Regions from separate parts of the Homo sapiens genome. Here region 2 is linked to region 1. A link means that fine-mapping ties the variant in region 1 to the expression of a gene that starts in the linked region. Tissue or cell type: tibial nerve. Region 1 holds a variant in brackets; the other region holds the start of a gene. All regions are shown on one strand. Distances are between the middles of the regions.

Region 1 (8,260 bases):
CCCACGTCTCATGGGAGGGACCCTGTGGGAGGTAATTGAATCATGAGGAGTGTGGGTCTTTCCCGTGCTATTCCTGTGATAGTGAATAAGTCTCAGGAGATCTGATGGTTTTATAAAGGGGAGTTTCCCTGCACAAATTCTCTCTTGTCTGCAGTCATGTAAGACATGCCTTTCACTTTCTGCCATGATTGAGAGGCTTCCCCAGCCACGTGGATCTGTGAGTCCATTAAACCTCTTTTTCTTTATAAATTACCCAGTCTCAGGTATGTCTTTATCTGCAGTGTGAAAATGGACTAATAGAAATGGGTATAGAATTTCAGATTTGCAAGATGAAAAAGTTCAGAAGATCTGTTTCACAATAATGTGACTATACTTAACATTACTGAACTAGACACCTAAAAATGGCTAATTTTTTCAAAAAATGGTACTGGAACAACTGGACATCCACATGCAGAAAATGAATCTAGAAACAGACTTTACACTCTTCCCCAAAATTAATTCAAAATAGATCATAGACTGAAATGTAAAATGTGAAATGTAAAACTACACTACTCCTAGAAGATAACATAGGAGAAAACCTAGGTGGCCTGGGCTATGGTCATGACTTTTTAGATACAACACCAAAGGCACAATCCATGAAATAAATAATTGATTTGCTGGATTTCATTAAAGTTTAGAACTGCTCAGCAAAAGACAATGTCAAAAGAATGAGAATACAACCATAGACAGGGAGAAAATATATGCAAAAGATATAACTGATAAAGGACTGTTACCCAAAATATACAAAGAACTCTTAGAACTCAACAAGGAAACAAACAACTTGATTAAAAAATAGACAAAGACCTGAAAGATATCTCACCAAAGAAGATCTACAGATGGCAAGTAAAAGCACATGAAAATATATTAAGCATCATACATCATTAGGAAATTACAAATTAAAATAACAATGAGATACCATTACATACCTATTAGAATGTCCAAAATCCAAAATACTGACAACACCAAAAGCTGATGAGGGTCTGGAACAGCAGGAACTCTCATTCATTGCTGGTGGGAATACAAAATGGTACAGCCACTTTGGAAGACTTTTTGACAGTTTCTCACAAAACTATATATACTCTTACCGTATAATCAATCAATTACACTTCTTGTTATTTACCCAAATGATTTGAAAACTTACATCCACACAAAAACCTGCAACAGATGTTTATAGTAGTCGGCAGCTTTATTAATAATTGCTAAAACTTGGAAGCAATCAATATGTCCTTTCATAGGCAAATGGATAAATAAACTTTGGTATATGCAGACAATGTCAAGTGATTCAACACTAAAAAGAAATGAGCTATCATGCCATGAAAAGACATAGAGGAAATTTAAATGCATATTACTAATGCATTTTCCAATGTGAAAATGTTGCAGACTGTATAATACCAGCTATAGAGCATTCTGGAAAAGCCAAAACTATGGAGACAGTAAAAAGATTAGTGGCTGCCAGGGGTTAGAAGGGAGAGAGGTATGAATAGGCAGAGCATGAAGGATTTTTAGGTCAGTGAAACTATTCTGTGTGATGCATGTCATTATACATACGTCATTATACATGTATACAATGGTAGATACATGTCATTATATGTATGTCAAAATCCATAGAATGTATACCACCAAGAGTGAATCCTAATGTAAACTATGAACTTTGGGTAATAATGCTGTACCCATGAAGGTTCACTGCTTGTAACAAAGGTACCATTGTGGTATGGGATGTTGATAGTGGAAGGCTGTGCGTACGTGGGGACAGGAGTGGGGATGGGAACTCTCTGTACTTTCTACTCAGTTTTTTTGTGAACCCAAAACTGTCCTAAAAAGTAAAGTTTATTAATTTTATAAAATGGTTAAGATGGTAAATTTTATGTTATTTTTATTTATTTATTTATTTATTTATTTATTTTTAGCACAATTTAAAGAATCTAGAACTGGGCATGGTGGCTCACACCTGTAATTGCAGCATTTTGGGAGGCCAAGGCGGGAGAATCACTTGAGCCCAGGAGTTCAAGACCACCCTGGGCAACATGGTGAAAACTCCATCTCTACAAAAAAAAATACAAAACTTAGCCAGGCATGGTGGTGCATATGTCACCAGCTACTCAGGAGCTGAGGCCAGAGGAGCCTGGGAGGTTGAGGCTGCAGTGAGCTGTGACTGCACCACTGCACTCCAGCCTGAGTGACTAAGCAAGACCCTGTCTCAAAAAGAAAAAAAAAAAATGAAAAGGGAAATTAAAATAAAAAAAAAAACCACACACACTGCAAAGTCTCACTTTCATTCCATCCTGTTCTTGTCGAAGAGGCAACCATTTAAATTTATCCTTTCAGTGTTTTTATGCAACTTCCACAAATATAAGTAATGCATATGTTTTTCTCTTCCTTTCATTCACAGAAAGTAACATCCTATATACACTGGTCTACACTTCCTGTATATTGTGTTTTCACTTAACAATCTATCCTGGAGATCTGTATTAAGCAGTGCTGTCCAATAAAATAGTCACTACCCATATATGGCTATTAAGCAAAAATTAAATACAATTAAAATTTAGCTGGGTGCAGTGGCTCACGCCTGTAATCCCAGCACTGTGGGAGGCTGAGGCAGGTGGATCACTTGAGGCCAGGAGTTGGAGACCAGCCTGGCCAACATGGCAAAACCCCGTCTCTACTAAAAATACAAAAATTAGCCAAGTGTGGTGGCACGAACCTATAATCCCAGCGACTGGGGAGGCTGAGGCACAAGAATGGCTTGAACCCAGGAGGCAGCAGTTGCCGTGAGCCAAGATAGCACCACTGCACTCCAGCCTGGGTGACAGAGTGAGACTCTGTCTTAAAAAAAAACAAGATTAGTTCCTTAGCTGAACTATTCACATTTCAAGCAGTCAATAACCACATGCGGCTGATGGCTACCATTTGTCCAAGAATAGAATATGTCCATTATCACAGAAATTTCTTTCAGAAAGCACTGGTTATAAACATCTTCCTCCTCCTTTTTTACAGCCATATAATACTCCACTGTGTAACAGTTTATTCTACCAATCCCTTCCTGGAGACATTTGAGTTGTTTGCACTATTTTGCTGTCATAAACAGTGCCCTATCATCACATGAGTTTTTGTGGAATAGGTTCTGCACTAACAAAAGGCATGGTAAGATAAGGCTGTGACCTGAGGCAGTGATTGCTCTGCAGGCAGGCCATACCAGGGTGGGATTTCTACTTCCGTGGATCTACTCAGTCCTTAGCTATGCAAATCTGGAAATGTTCAGGCTGATGTCACATTAGCCACACTCATAAGACACTATTGGGCATCAAAAATGAGCAATTACTTGATATTAAATGGAGGTAGTTCTTTAGATTTAGTGAAATCCTCGTGTCTGCTGCCTAAGACATTGCCTTCCCAGAAGGTAAGCCTTGCCCAGGGGAAATGGATAATTCTGACACATATTTCATCCAGACATGACAGGTTCCTGTTCCTAAACCAAGTATGCCTCTCCTTTTATCGGAAAGCTTGTGTTCACTAGGATCACCATTTCCTGTGCAGCATTTTCCCCTGGGCCATCTTTGCACAGATGCCTGGGAAACTATTCCTCTTCTGCCAGCTCTTTCTTCAGGCAGTACAC[A/C]GTGTGCTCGGGAGGTTTCACCTTGTTTGGTGATGGTCATGTTTCAGTGCAGTTTCAAGTCCTCCCCAAATTCTTCAGTTATATAACCACAATGTCTTCAATATTGCTATTGTGACATATGGTGGTTTTAAAATACGCCTAAAAATTCTTTACTACTCTGCTCTTCAAGTGATGAAATTAGCTGAGCATGGTGGCATGTACCTGTAGTCCTAGCTACTCAGGAGACTGAGGCAGGAGGATCACTTGAGTCCAGGAGTTCAAGTCTGCAGTAAGCTATGATCATGCCACTGCACTCCAGCCTGGGCCACAGAGCGAGACCTTGTCTCTTAAAAAGAAAAAAAGATGGAACTTAATTCCCTTCCTGTTGAGGGTGGACCGGACTTTGTGACGTACTTGTAATGAATAGCATGTGGCAGAAGTAACAGTGCGTGCAGCTTCTGTGATTAGGTCTTAAAAGGGAATGTGGCTTCCTCCCTGTCTGGCTTTCTTGAATTATTCATTCAGGGTAGGCCAACTGCCATTTCATGAAGACACTCAACTAGTCCTGTGGAGAGGTCCACGTGGTGGGAACTGAGGTTTCCTGCTAAAACCCAGCACTAACTTGCAGGGTGAGTGTCTTCATGCATTTTGTGCTGCTCTAACAGAATACCTGAGACCGGGTAATTTATAAAGAGCAGTAATTTATTTCTTCACAGTTCTACACACTAGGAAGTCCAAGATTAAGACAGCGGCATCTGGCAAGGGCCTTCTTGCTGTGTCATCACATGGCAGCAAGGCAAAGAGAGAGAAAAAGAGGGGATGAACTCATCCTTTTGTAACAGTATCAATCCCACCTCTGAGGGCAGAGCCATTACGACCTAATAACCTCTTAATGTTCCACCTCTTAATACTATGACAATGTCAGTTAAATTTAAAGACAGATATTCAAATCATGGTGCCAGGTGCAAGAGCCACCTAGGAAGTGGATTCTCCAGGCCTCATCCAGCATTCGGACGATTGCAGACCTGGTCAACTTCTTGAAAATCTCATGGGAGACCGAGTTAGAACCGCCCAGCCAAGCTGTTCCTGACCCACAGAGACTGTGTGAAATACTAAGTGTTTATTGTTTTATGCTACTAAATTTGGGGAAAATTCATTAGCAGCAACAGATAGCTAACATATCTAGATGGCTGAGATCATCCGTTTTTGTTTTGATCCTTATTAATTTCCCTCTTGCAGGGTTATCTTGACTTCTAATCTACAGGGACACTCGAGAACACTAACCTGTGAACCATCATTTTCTTATCTGTAAAATGCAAGATTGGTATGAAGGGCACAAAGCAGGGACTTAAATGGAAATGATTAATATTGTTGTCGATGCTCATTAATAATGGAAGCCTTGGGTATCTTCCATTTGCCCCTCCATATCCATGTCCATTTCCAATCTTTTCTCACCCTACTCTGTGCCCCAGGAGGGGCTGACTTCCATGGACTATGTCAGTGGCCTCTCTGGTTCTCAGCCTTCCGGTAGAGTTTGGCAAATGAGAAATACTGGCAGGAGATAGGAGGAGGGCCAGAGGAAAGGGATGTATTTCCTTGGTTTCTTCCTTTCCAAGTCACCATGCTTTATCTTCATTCCTCTACCTCAGGCCACCCTGTCTTGGTACTGGTAACTACTGTCTCCTCTCTCCCCTCCAGGCCTCTGAATGATAACTGCTCCCCTCTTTTGCTAGCCCCAGGGTGTGTCAGTGTCCTTTGGTGGGCTCCCTAAGCTCTGTCTGCACAACTTTGTAAATAGTCCCTGTATTAAACTCACCTCAAATTGTATAGATCCCCTGCAGGGATCCTAAATGAGAATGGCTAGTTTTAGTTGCTTTTAATAATGATCCTGGATTTTTTAAAAGAAACAAACATTCTATAACCAGAAAGATTTCTGAGAATCCAAATAGATACAAGATTGAGCTTAGAAAAATCTAAAGAAATGGTTGTTTAGAATATCCCAACTTGAATTATCTGGCAAATGTACGTATCACAGATATGAAAGGAACCTTGTTTCCCTCCTGAGAGCAAAACCCAGAACCTCCAAGCAAAACCCAGGACCTCCAAAGTCGTCTGTGGAAGGAGTATAGCTGGAGTAAGACAGCAGGGAGAGCCAGGCGCCATGGCTCACACCTGTAACCCCAGCACTTTGGGAGGCTGAGGTTGGCGGACCACTTGAGATCAGGAATTTGAGACCAGCCTGGCCAACATGGTGAAACCCCATCTCTACTAAAAACACAAAATTTGTTGGGTGTGATGGCGCATGCCTGTAATTCCAGCTACTCGGGAGGCTGAGGCAGGAGAATCACTTGAACCTCGGAGGCGGAGTTTGCAATGAGCCAAGATCTCGCCATTGCACTCCAGCCTGGGAGACAAGAGCAAGACTCCATCTCAAAAAGAGAGCAGTAAGACCAGTGGGAGAGGGCAGTTGGCCAGCCTTGACAGTGTTTCCTGAGAGGACACTTCTCACCCTGAATGCTACTGCCTCCTGCCCACAGGGTGTTGCTGCTTCTCTTTCATGCTTTCCCTAGAACTTCAACAACAGCAACAAAAGCTTTATAGATATTTAAGGAGACCAAAAAGGAGAAAGCCTGAGGAAGAGCCATCCACTTAGGCTGCTCCTCATCCTACTGGAATGAGGAAGTGTAGCTTGGATTCCCAGCCTGGCTGACTTCTCCAAGCGTTGACATCTGTCCCACCCCATGGGGCCAACACACCTTCCCAGGCACCTGCCTGAGTTTCTCATCTTCGAAGTGGGCATAATACTATATTGAGAGGGTTCATCTATGTAAAGTGCCTGGGACAGTGTTGACACCCTGTATGTGCTAATTTTAATAGCAGCAGCAGCAGCTGTAGTTATTAGTGAAGATAATGGGTGTGGAACATGAACATTTGTTTTGACATGTAGGGTTGAAATTTATGCCAAGAGCCTCTGCCTAAACCCAAGAGTCCCAAGAGTGTCTGGGATAGACTATGAAAAAGCATTAAAAGCCTGATGTCTGTACAGAGATCACACAAATTGGCCTGTAGATGATTTTTGTTGAAGGGGTGGTGACAGAGCAGTAATAAAAAACCTAAGTTGTTCTTATCCACTGAGTTGAGTCTTTAGAACCCAGCTTAATATTTTCATGGCTCAGATTTATTTTGAATCTTAGCTTTTATTTAGTGCTTTAAAATGGGAGCAGATTGGGCTTACGAAAGGATGCAAAACTTGCCCTGACATTAAATGGCCCCAATTGCTAGCCTCTTCAGTTCTTATATCTCAATTATAATTTTTTATATTATAATTGTTGGCCTGTTTCCTCACGCTATGCTTTTAGCAGCCAGATCTTATTGCTTAGAAAGTGATTAATAAATGTTGGTTCATTAGTAATGTTTGGTTAATGACTGTAAATGCTTTCTCATTTTCCATTTCCCCTCTTTATTGTTAATTGCTTCTAATCTATAAACTGGGAAGACAGATGTCAAATCTTGTAGTAGTGTATGCAGCTGGAACAAGTCAGTACTGGGAAACAGATTATTTTACTCTTGGAGCACCTGCCCATGTGGAGCTCCTTTTGAAGAAAGCCGATCATTTGACCCTGCCACCATGGAGCAGAGATGGACAGCAAACCCAACAACAGTTGGCTATAGACTGAAAGCCAAGGAGTCAGTCTCCAAAGAACATCAGAAACCAATGGAACCAATCAAATCCTCTCTTTTGGAGAGTTTGAATGTGAGTCTCAAGAGGACATCCCATGCTGAGGAGGTTGAGGCTAACCCATGCAGAGATAAGGCAGCAAGCAAGCCCTTAGGTAGAGCGAGGCTGTAGGAGGAGTAGCCGTGGAGGCAGAGTGGCTTTGTTGCCTGATGGTGAAACCTCAGAGTCAGGGGCCACTGGGCAATGCTGCCAGCATGGAGCTACAGTAATTCCAAATGACTCCTAACCATGTCCTGCTGACTTCCATGACTGTTAGAAGGAAAGTTGGTGCTGCCTAGTTGTTCCCTTGCATGTGGCTGTGTGGGCTGTTTTGGTTTATTTGTTTAAGAGGCAAACTGTGGAGAGGTAAAGAACTTTCACTTACTCTAACCAGAGTATCCTTATTTTCTAGAACACTTTTTAAAAATTTAAGCATTTGATATATGGAACCTGGTATAGATATTAAAATGCACTCAAGAGGAAACATGCTTTTGAGCTGAGGTCCTATTTTCCAGCTTCTTTTCCTTTTTTTTTTTTTTTTTGAGATGGAGTCTCACTCTGTCACCCAGGCTGGAGTGCAGTGGTGTGATCTCACCTCGCTGCAACCTCCGCCTCCCGGGTTCAAGTGATTCTCCTGCCTCAGCCTCCAGAGTAGCGGGGTTTACAGGCATGTGCCACCACATTCAGCTAACTTTTGTACTTTTAGTAGAGACGGGTTTTCACCATGTTGGTCAGGCTGGTCTCTAACTCCTGACCTCGTAATCTACCCGCCTCAGGTTCCCAAAGTGCTGGGATTACAGTCGTGAGCCACCATGCCTGGCCAGTTTCTTTTCCTTTTATTTTGGGTCTGGCAGGAGGCTTTTATATTGTCTCCCAGGTGTGAGGACTAGTCACTGTATCATGCTTGTAAA
Region 2 (8,000 bases), 100 kb after region 1:
AGACATTTAAACTGCAAACCAGGATGAGAAATTGCTGACATCATGTTGTGGACAGCGTTTTCCAAGACTGTCAGAATAAGACTCGCTACCATGATAAGACTCCTTCCCTTCTTAATTTTTTCTTGCTTATGCCCACCTCTTCCACTTGGCAGGATAATGCTGTAGTTAAAATTTCACAATTAGTAGTTTTTGTGGGTAAGTTGATAAAGGGTCAAACCCAAACATTTACAGGACCCAAGAGAGCTTTTATTCCACCTAGTGGGTAACTTTAGCAACATCCCTAATGCAACTGTTTGTTCAAATTTTACTAGTGGCCTCTTTTGTAGAGTTAGCACTCTTTGCTTTAATTTAACCCATTTCTGAGATGCTAGATGATAGAATTGCTGCGTACTAACCAAACGGGGAAATCTGTGCTGTTGCTGTCACTTCTTGTTGTACATAAATAATCTGGTATTGTAGAGACTCAGTTTCAAAAAGTTAGCAGGCTACTTGGTGAAAACAGGTAGATTTCTCATCTGGCTCATTCTTTGATCTATTTGATTTTAGTTGGTTTGGTTTATGGCAACCCTAGCTAAGAAGCATACTCCGAACTCTTGGCATTGTCCTCCTGATAGTCACAATTCTCAATTATGTTCTCTCAAAAAGTTTTACATATTTGCATACAGCCAATTGTTGAATGTCATATGGTCTCTCTTCAGCTGCAATGACAGAAATACAAAATCATGAGGACACTGTAATCTATAAATGATGTGTTGAGACTGGAAACACAGAATGATGTTAAATGAGGGTAGTGCTAATGCCCTCAGTCTTAGTCACAATTTCACCTAGGTTGTTAAATAAAAATCATGGGATGCCATTGTTTTCAACCAAATTCCTGCATCAGGCCTCCAGATCAGACTAAAAATCAAAATGGTGTCACCCATGTTCACCAAAACAAAACTGAGTTATCTGGTTTTCCAAAAAATGGTAAGAGAGATAGCCAATTTTCCAAACAGAAGTTTCAATCTTTAACAGGCATGATAATGAAATTTCCTGTTTTAATCCTTAAAATAGAATACCTGAAGTAACCCAATGTTAACCAATCAGTTTTCTTTCTACTGTTCTGTCTCCACGTCTCCACCTTAAAGAAAAGTGACTTTGATATAACCAATCTGCTTTTTGTTGTTTCTGCCTTCTTCAGTCTATTTTCTGTCTCTAAAGTTAACATCCTCTGCTTGATTCATTGCAACATTTATTCTATTTTGTGGAATGAAGTTTTGTCCAATTCTAGGAGTGCAATAATGCCAATGAGATCTTGAATCTCAATTTGTTTTACTTTTGTTTCTTGACAATGGAGAGGTTTAGGCTAGAGAGCATTTTCAAAGTCATGAGCATATAGACTTCAAGTCAACCAGTTAGATGAGATCACCTGGTGATAAAATAGAGAAGAATGCAAGGACCGAGCCCTGGAGCAGTCCAACATTTAAAGATTGAGCCAAAGAGGAGAAACCAGCATATCAAAAAGGAGGCCCAGTGAGGGAACAGGACTATCTGTGACGTGTAGGTAAGTTCAGGGGGAAAAGTGTTTCAAATCAAAGGAACCATGTCAATTATTCGCGATTCTACAGAGAGGTCAATTGAGATATGGATAGAGAATTGGCAATTGCCTTTGGAAACAAGATCATTAGTAATCTTGATAAGTGATACAGATGATGGAAGCCAAAGCTCGATCAGGGTAGACTGAGAAGTGAATGTGAAGTGAGAGGTAGGAACAAGCACTATTGGAGAGATCTTGAAAAACCTTTCTAAGAATTTATGAAGATAGCAGAAAAATAGGGCAGTTCCTAGAGGCGATTTTGGAGTCAAAGGAAGTTTATTTTAGATGGGAGAAATTTCAATATATTTATATGCTGATAGGAGCAATTCAATTGAGAGGGAAAAAACTAACGATGCTGGAGGGTAGGTAATTGTAAGAGTAAAATCCTTAGGAATGTGCGTGAAAAAAATCCGGTCACTGGTAAAGGGACTGGCCTTCCTAGGCGCAGGGACACTTCATTCATAGCAACCCAAATGTTACTATGCAGATAAGGGTGGTTTTGATGGTGAGAAGATAAGGGAGTTTATTTCTGATATCTTTCATTTTTTCCATGAGTTATGAGGCAAAGTTGATTAGTAAAAGTGGGGGTTGGGGAGGAGGTATATAGAAGGCTTTCAGTAGAGACGAAAAGGAATGAAATAATCCTTCCATCAAGTCTACTTAAATGTCAATTTAGTGGATAAAACCCTCCCAGAATTAAGTACATCTCCCAAACCCTTTCTCTCTCTCAATGACCTTTTGCTCCTTTCTGGTACTCACTAACATTTGCAATTGTATCTTTGTTCGTTCACTTCTCTGATTCCCCATTAGAGAACTACAGAAGGGCACGGACTTTGATTTCAAAATGTATATTTAGCCGTTAGCACAAGGCAAGCAGATGGTCACTAAATAAATACTTTTTTAAACAAAAATGTTAATGAACACCTTCAAAATTTTGTCTTACGCCACCTCGTTAAAATACTTGTTTGTGCAAGTCACTTTTCCTCTCTGAGCTTTCATTTCTGAATCTATACCATGGGAATTATCTCTTCCTTGCCTACCTCCCCTCGTTATCAAGAGGATCTGAGCCAATAATGATAGAAATGCTTCATTAAGGGCCCCTTAAATGTAATGGATTTCTATTTTTAGCCCACTGGTAGCCTCGCAGGTAGCAGGTGCTGAAAAAGCCTTGCTTATTGGGGGTTGGGGGACAGCATTGTTTCTGTGACCGTAGGCGTCGAAGCTATGCAGAAGCGTTCCGCGGACCGCAGAGAGATGGGGCTCAGGCCAGCATCCCTCTCGCTCCGGCCCTTCCCGGGAGGAGCTGGCCGAGCTAGGATGGGGGGCAGGGAGACCGAGGGGGCAGTAACTGTCAAACCTCGCCGCTTGGCGCCATTATTTAAATGGAACGTGCCTGTCTCGCAGCTGTACGTGCCCGGGGCGGGGCTTCGAGCGCCCTGAGCGGGGCGGAGGCTAGAGGCGGGCTGGGAAGGTGGAGGGGCGGGCCGGGGCGGGGCCAGGCCGGCTAGAGGGGCGGGTCTAGCGGCGGCCCCCGGCGAAGTTCACTGCGCTTGCGCTGACAGACGCAAGATGGCGGACAGTGCGGAACTAAAGGTAAAGCGCAGCTCGAATTCACTTCTAATATTCGGCCGCGGAGACGGCGCCGCTGCTGCCAGGGGGGATGGGTCCGACCCTGGGGGGCCTCTCGGGCCTGACTCCACCCGGGCCTGGAGTTGTAGGGAGAGAGGCGCGCCCGGTCTCAGCAGAGGGGGCCCGCCTGCGGCGGGCCGCGGGCCCCGGGTGCCTCGGGGGCGCTGACGGGTCGTCCCCGGCGTGTTATTGTTGTGGGCGCCTCTGGCGGGGGTGGCGGGGGAAGAGATAGGGAGTCCGGAGGTAGGGGCTGCAGCTGTCTCATGGGCTCGGCTTTTTCACCTTCCAGTTAGCCTCCCTGCCCCCCATGGGGAGCTGGGGCTGGGGGCAGGGTGCTCTCGTAGGGGGGATTGGGAAAGCTCCCCGTGGCCGCTTCCTCTTCCTCCTTTGCAGTCCCGGGCTCCTGTCAGGCGCTCTTCTCAGACCCCCGGGAACTTGGCTTCGGCCGCCCCGCCCCTCCGTGGATCCCAGTAGCCCCCGCCCCGGACTCGGCTTTCCCCGGCTGCTCGCTTGTCAGGAAGCGCCTGGGGTGCCCCGCTTGTGGGAAGCGCGATCCCGGGGCGATAGGGTGGGGATCTGGGGGAGAAGCTCTGGTAAAGTTTAGCGAGCCCCGGGCCGGCGTTGGGGTTCGGCTGAGAGGTAGTGAGCGGGACGTTACTCTTTCTCTCTGATTCCGGGCAGCCGAGGGGAGAAACCCCCTCGAAGAGTGTGTCTTTGGAAGCAGTGTTGGGAGGGGGGGATGCAGCTACCTCTCTCCCTTCTTTTGCCTTAGCTGGTGTGGAGGGTGAGAGGAGCCTTTGGGGGTCTCTGCACACACCATGATGGCGATGCTGTAGCTGATGGAGGTGAATGGTTCGTGTTTATATCCCCCCATTGCCTTTTGTTTGTAGGGACATCTTGCTGGCCATGTTGATTTGAACGAAATTCTCCCCTCATGCTACTCCAACCCCCGATAAATAGAACGTTCCTCTTAACAGTACCAATTACTCACGCCTCACGAAATTAGATGAAAGGGTGCCCCCTTTTCCCCGCTTTTCTCCCACCCCAATCTTTACCTGATGATGGCTTCTTTACCGTAGCAGATATACCACTACACAAGCAGTTGGGGGAGGGGGTGGTGGAACCCTTATGACTGGATTGTGACAAATGGGGCTCCGCTTGAATAATTTTGGTTTAGTAGCAGGCAGTTCTTAACTAACGCGTATTATTTCGAGGCTCTGAACGCGATCTTCTCTGTGGCTTCCTGTGTGTGTGAACCCAGCAGCTGGTTATGTCTCGACCCAGAGAACTGACATCTCTGTCAGAGAGGAGATGGGGATATACAATTGTAAATCTTTGGGGAGAGTCTTCTTTTTATAATAAATAAAAATTATTTAATTTTTTCCCCGTTATAATGAAACGACAACTTCTAGAACAACCAAATGCCAGATTTGATTCTGTAGAGTTTTTCCTGTGGAATATCCTCACCGAAAGAGCTTTTCTCCTAATAACTTCACAATGTTTACACTCCAAGATTCGTATGTTAAGGTATTGGCTTTGAGTGTCATTCTTTTAAAATGTACTTCTAATTACAAATTTACTGAAGGGAGAGCAGATTTACAATGGATGGTTTTGATTTTTCCCCAGTTTCAAACTATTGACTGAAATGAGAAAGCCTTAGGAATTTGAATATTTGGAGATAATTAACCCTTGAAATAAAAAAAAGCACACAACTTTAAGACATGTTTTCTATAATTTTTCTCTTAGAGTCACTATGTTGCTGTGATCTTTGCCTTGTAATATTTATTTTGTTAGGAGTTCTTTTGAATGATAGCTAATCAGTTGTTATACATGGACCATAGAATAAAGCTGAAAAGCATGTGCAGACTATATTGTCACTCTTGATGCTGTCCAAAGAAACTAGTATGGAAAGCACATGCTGAGAGATTTCCTTCTTTGTTCTTTCTCATTTTAAGAAAGTGCCTTTGGGGATAGATCAGATCCCTGGTGTGAGTCTTGTTAGGTAAAGTTTCTCTTTACGAAAATGAACCAGTATCAGATAAACACCAAACACTTGAAGAAATGTTATTTTTCTAAAATTAATCTCGTTTTTTGTGCTCTCCCAAATCTACTAGAGTTTTTCCAGAGGAAGTTTTTTTTTTCTACTCTTATGTTCCTGTTGTATAATTTTTCAAATTATAATAACTGTTTTGACATGTTGGTATGTCATTGTGTGTGTCTGAGACTTTGAGGAGCTGTGTGATAAATTGCTTAGCTGGTGATAGCGGCGTTAAAAAAATTTGGTTAATACTTTATTGTGGTTAGATTTGCTGTTCTTTTTTTGAGGGGTGGAGGAGGTGATCTCAGGAACGCCTACCATAGTTATTTGAGAATGTGTTAAAAAAAAGAGAATGTGTATATATAATTTTCTGTGCAGTAAGGTTTGGCAGATACTCCTTTTGGAAATGATATTTTCTGAAGGCTTTTTGTTTGTGATTTTTTGGAGGTAAATATCATACATTCCTAATATGATAGGAAAAATCAGAGTAAGAAGAAAAAAATCTAGATTTTTTGAAATTTTAAATGGGAATAGAGTACTTCAACTGTGAAGCTTTACATAAAACTCAGTGACTTTTCATTATTTTAGGTTTCAGCCCCATACTTCATTTTGCTGTGGATTGTATTCATAATTATTTTCCTCATGGCTTTTTTAGTGAGTCCTTTTAAATCTATAAGAAATGTGCAAAGATCAGATGGGAAAAACAGATAGATCTTTATCCCCTGTAGGAATTGTGCAAGCTGCAACACTTCAAGATATTGCCAATAAAAATTAGATTGTGAGTCATACATATCAAAATGAATTCTCTATGCACATTTGTTTATGAAAGGTTTAATTTTTCATTAGGGGAGTACCCATAAATGTCATTTTTAAGAATGTGGAGGGTATTTTGTCATCTTTAGGAACTTAGAAGCAGGAGGGTGTGATGGCCAGATGATCTTGGTAGTTAATAAGCTGACAGCTTCATGAAACTCCTCTTAAAGTAATTTAAAAAAAAATATGTGTTTTTTTGGAGTAAAACTCAAACCAAGTTATAGTGCCATTTTAATTTACAGGAAGAAGAGTGGGAGAGAAGAAGTCCATCAGCATTTTAGTGGAGTAAATAATGAAATTAAATGGGAAGAGAAACCATAATTATAAAAGTTACTATGAGTGTGTCAGTGAATTCTATTGTTATTTTCTGCCTCTTTATTTTCAAGAAATAGCTACTTAATTTTGATCCTTACGCTGTAATTTGTCTGCTTTTATTTCAGATAGAGTCAAGTACATCTGATAGTTTATTCATGGATTTGATTTGAATCTCTATAACTTGCTTTTGTCAAGTGCCACATTTAGATGGCTTTTGTTTTATGTCATTATTTTTATCAACAGTATTTTAAAAACTCTACAGTATAGTTTATAAAATACTACGTATAGTTTCTAAGTATTTCATATGATTGTTTTGAAATACCTCCTTCTTTTCATCCACCGTTTTCTCCTGGGCGATCCCATTGTCTTTTTCTTCAAAGAGTTTCTTGTAATCCCTGTTGATTGCGGTAGTGCTTAGTGGCGAGTCCATAGCTGATTAACCTTGGGTGTCTCCTGGTGAACTCCATCAGCATGCTGCTCCAGGGTTCTTGCTGAGGCTTTTGAGTTTAGTGTAATTTGTACCCTTTTTTGCTGGTAACCAGGGATAAGAAAATAAAATGGCCAATGGTTGTAGCGGGAACTGGGAAAAAGTATCCAAGTCTCAGAAAAACTGGGTGTTTATGATGAGATGTAGCCTTTCAAAACAACAACCAAAAACGGATTCATTACTTCATAGAATTGATTGTGGTGTTTTCTGAAGTGTTTGACTCTGGCATGAAGCATCTTGCTTTTTTAATGTTTGAATAATAATATCTTACTTATATAGTACTTTGCAGTTCATAATATATTGCATTATCTCTTTTGATCTTTCCAACAGTTCTTTGAGGTAGGAAAGGCAAGTAATAACTAAATCCTTTTTATAGATAGAGAAAGTGAGCCCAGAAAGGGTACGTGACTATTGCAAGGTCATACAAATAAAAGTGGCAGGGACTTGAGCCTAGGTCTTGTGTAGTCCTCCTTAAAGGTCCTACAGCAGACCTGGAGTCCTCTAGGGTGCCCAGTTCACAGATTTCTACTTATGTTGTTGCTGATACTTTCCCTTTTGGAAAAGCTCTATGCTAGGGTATTTTTGGATATTCTAGGGCATTTTGCAAGCTTCCTTGCAAAAAGTTTGGAGTTTGTTAGTTGGAATCATACACATTAATTTTTGTAAGTATCATTTTGCTTGAGAAAATTTCAGAGAATCTGAGAAGTAAGCAGAAAAATAAACAGTACCTGTAATCCCAACACTCAGAGATATCATGGTTAACATCTGGGTATTTATCCACTTAAGACTTTCTCTCTGTGAGCATATGTATATGTATATTCATCATAAAAAGATACAACACTGTTTTTTATTTATAATCTGCTATTTTCATGTCTATCCAGGTTAGTAAATACAGGTCTATATGATCATTTGAAACCTTACATTGTGTTTTATTAAACTAGTCCCTGTCAGATTATTCTACTTTTTTTTTTTTTTTTTTTTTTGAGACGGAGTCTTCCTCTGTTGCCCAGGCAGTAGTGCAGTGGCGCGATCTCGGCGCACTGCAAGCTCCGCCTCCCGGGTTAACACCATTCTCCTGCCTCAGCCTTCGGTGTAGCTGGGACTACAGGTGCCCGCCACTACGCCCCGCTAATTTTTTTGTA

Evidence for each region. PIP is the estimated chance that this variant, and not a neighbour inherited with it, causes the effect.
Region 2: PIAS1 starts here. The variant in region 1 is fine-mapped to the expression of PIAS1 in tibial nerve (GTEx, PIP 0.98).

The regions. Positions count from the first base shown.
Region 1 is chr15:67,951,318-67,959,577 of GRCh38, forward strand. No RefSeq gene overlaps it. Among named protein-coding and RNA genes, the nearest start is that of PIAS1, 99 kb to the right of the region's middle. RefSeq lists an enhancer at 3,732-3,811. The variant A/C (reference allele first, on the strand shown) is at 3,653.
Region 2 is chr15:68,051,182-68,059,181 of GRCh38, forward strand. It overlaps PIAS1 (protein inhibitor of activated STAT 1), which reads left to right and starts at 3,134. Exons shown (of 14, transcript NM_016166.3): 1 at 3,134-3,169. The coding sequence starts at 3,146. RefSeq lists a silencer at 2,933-3,432.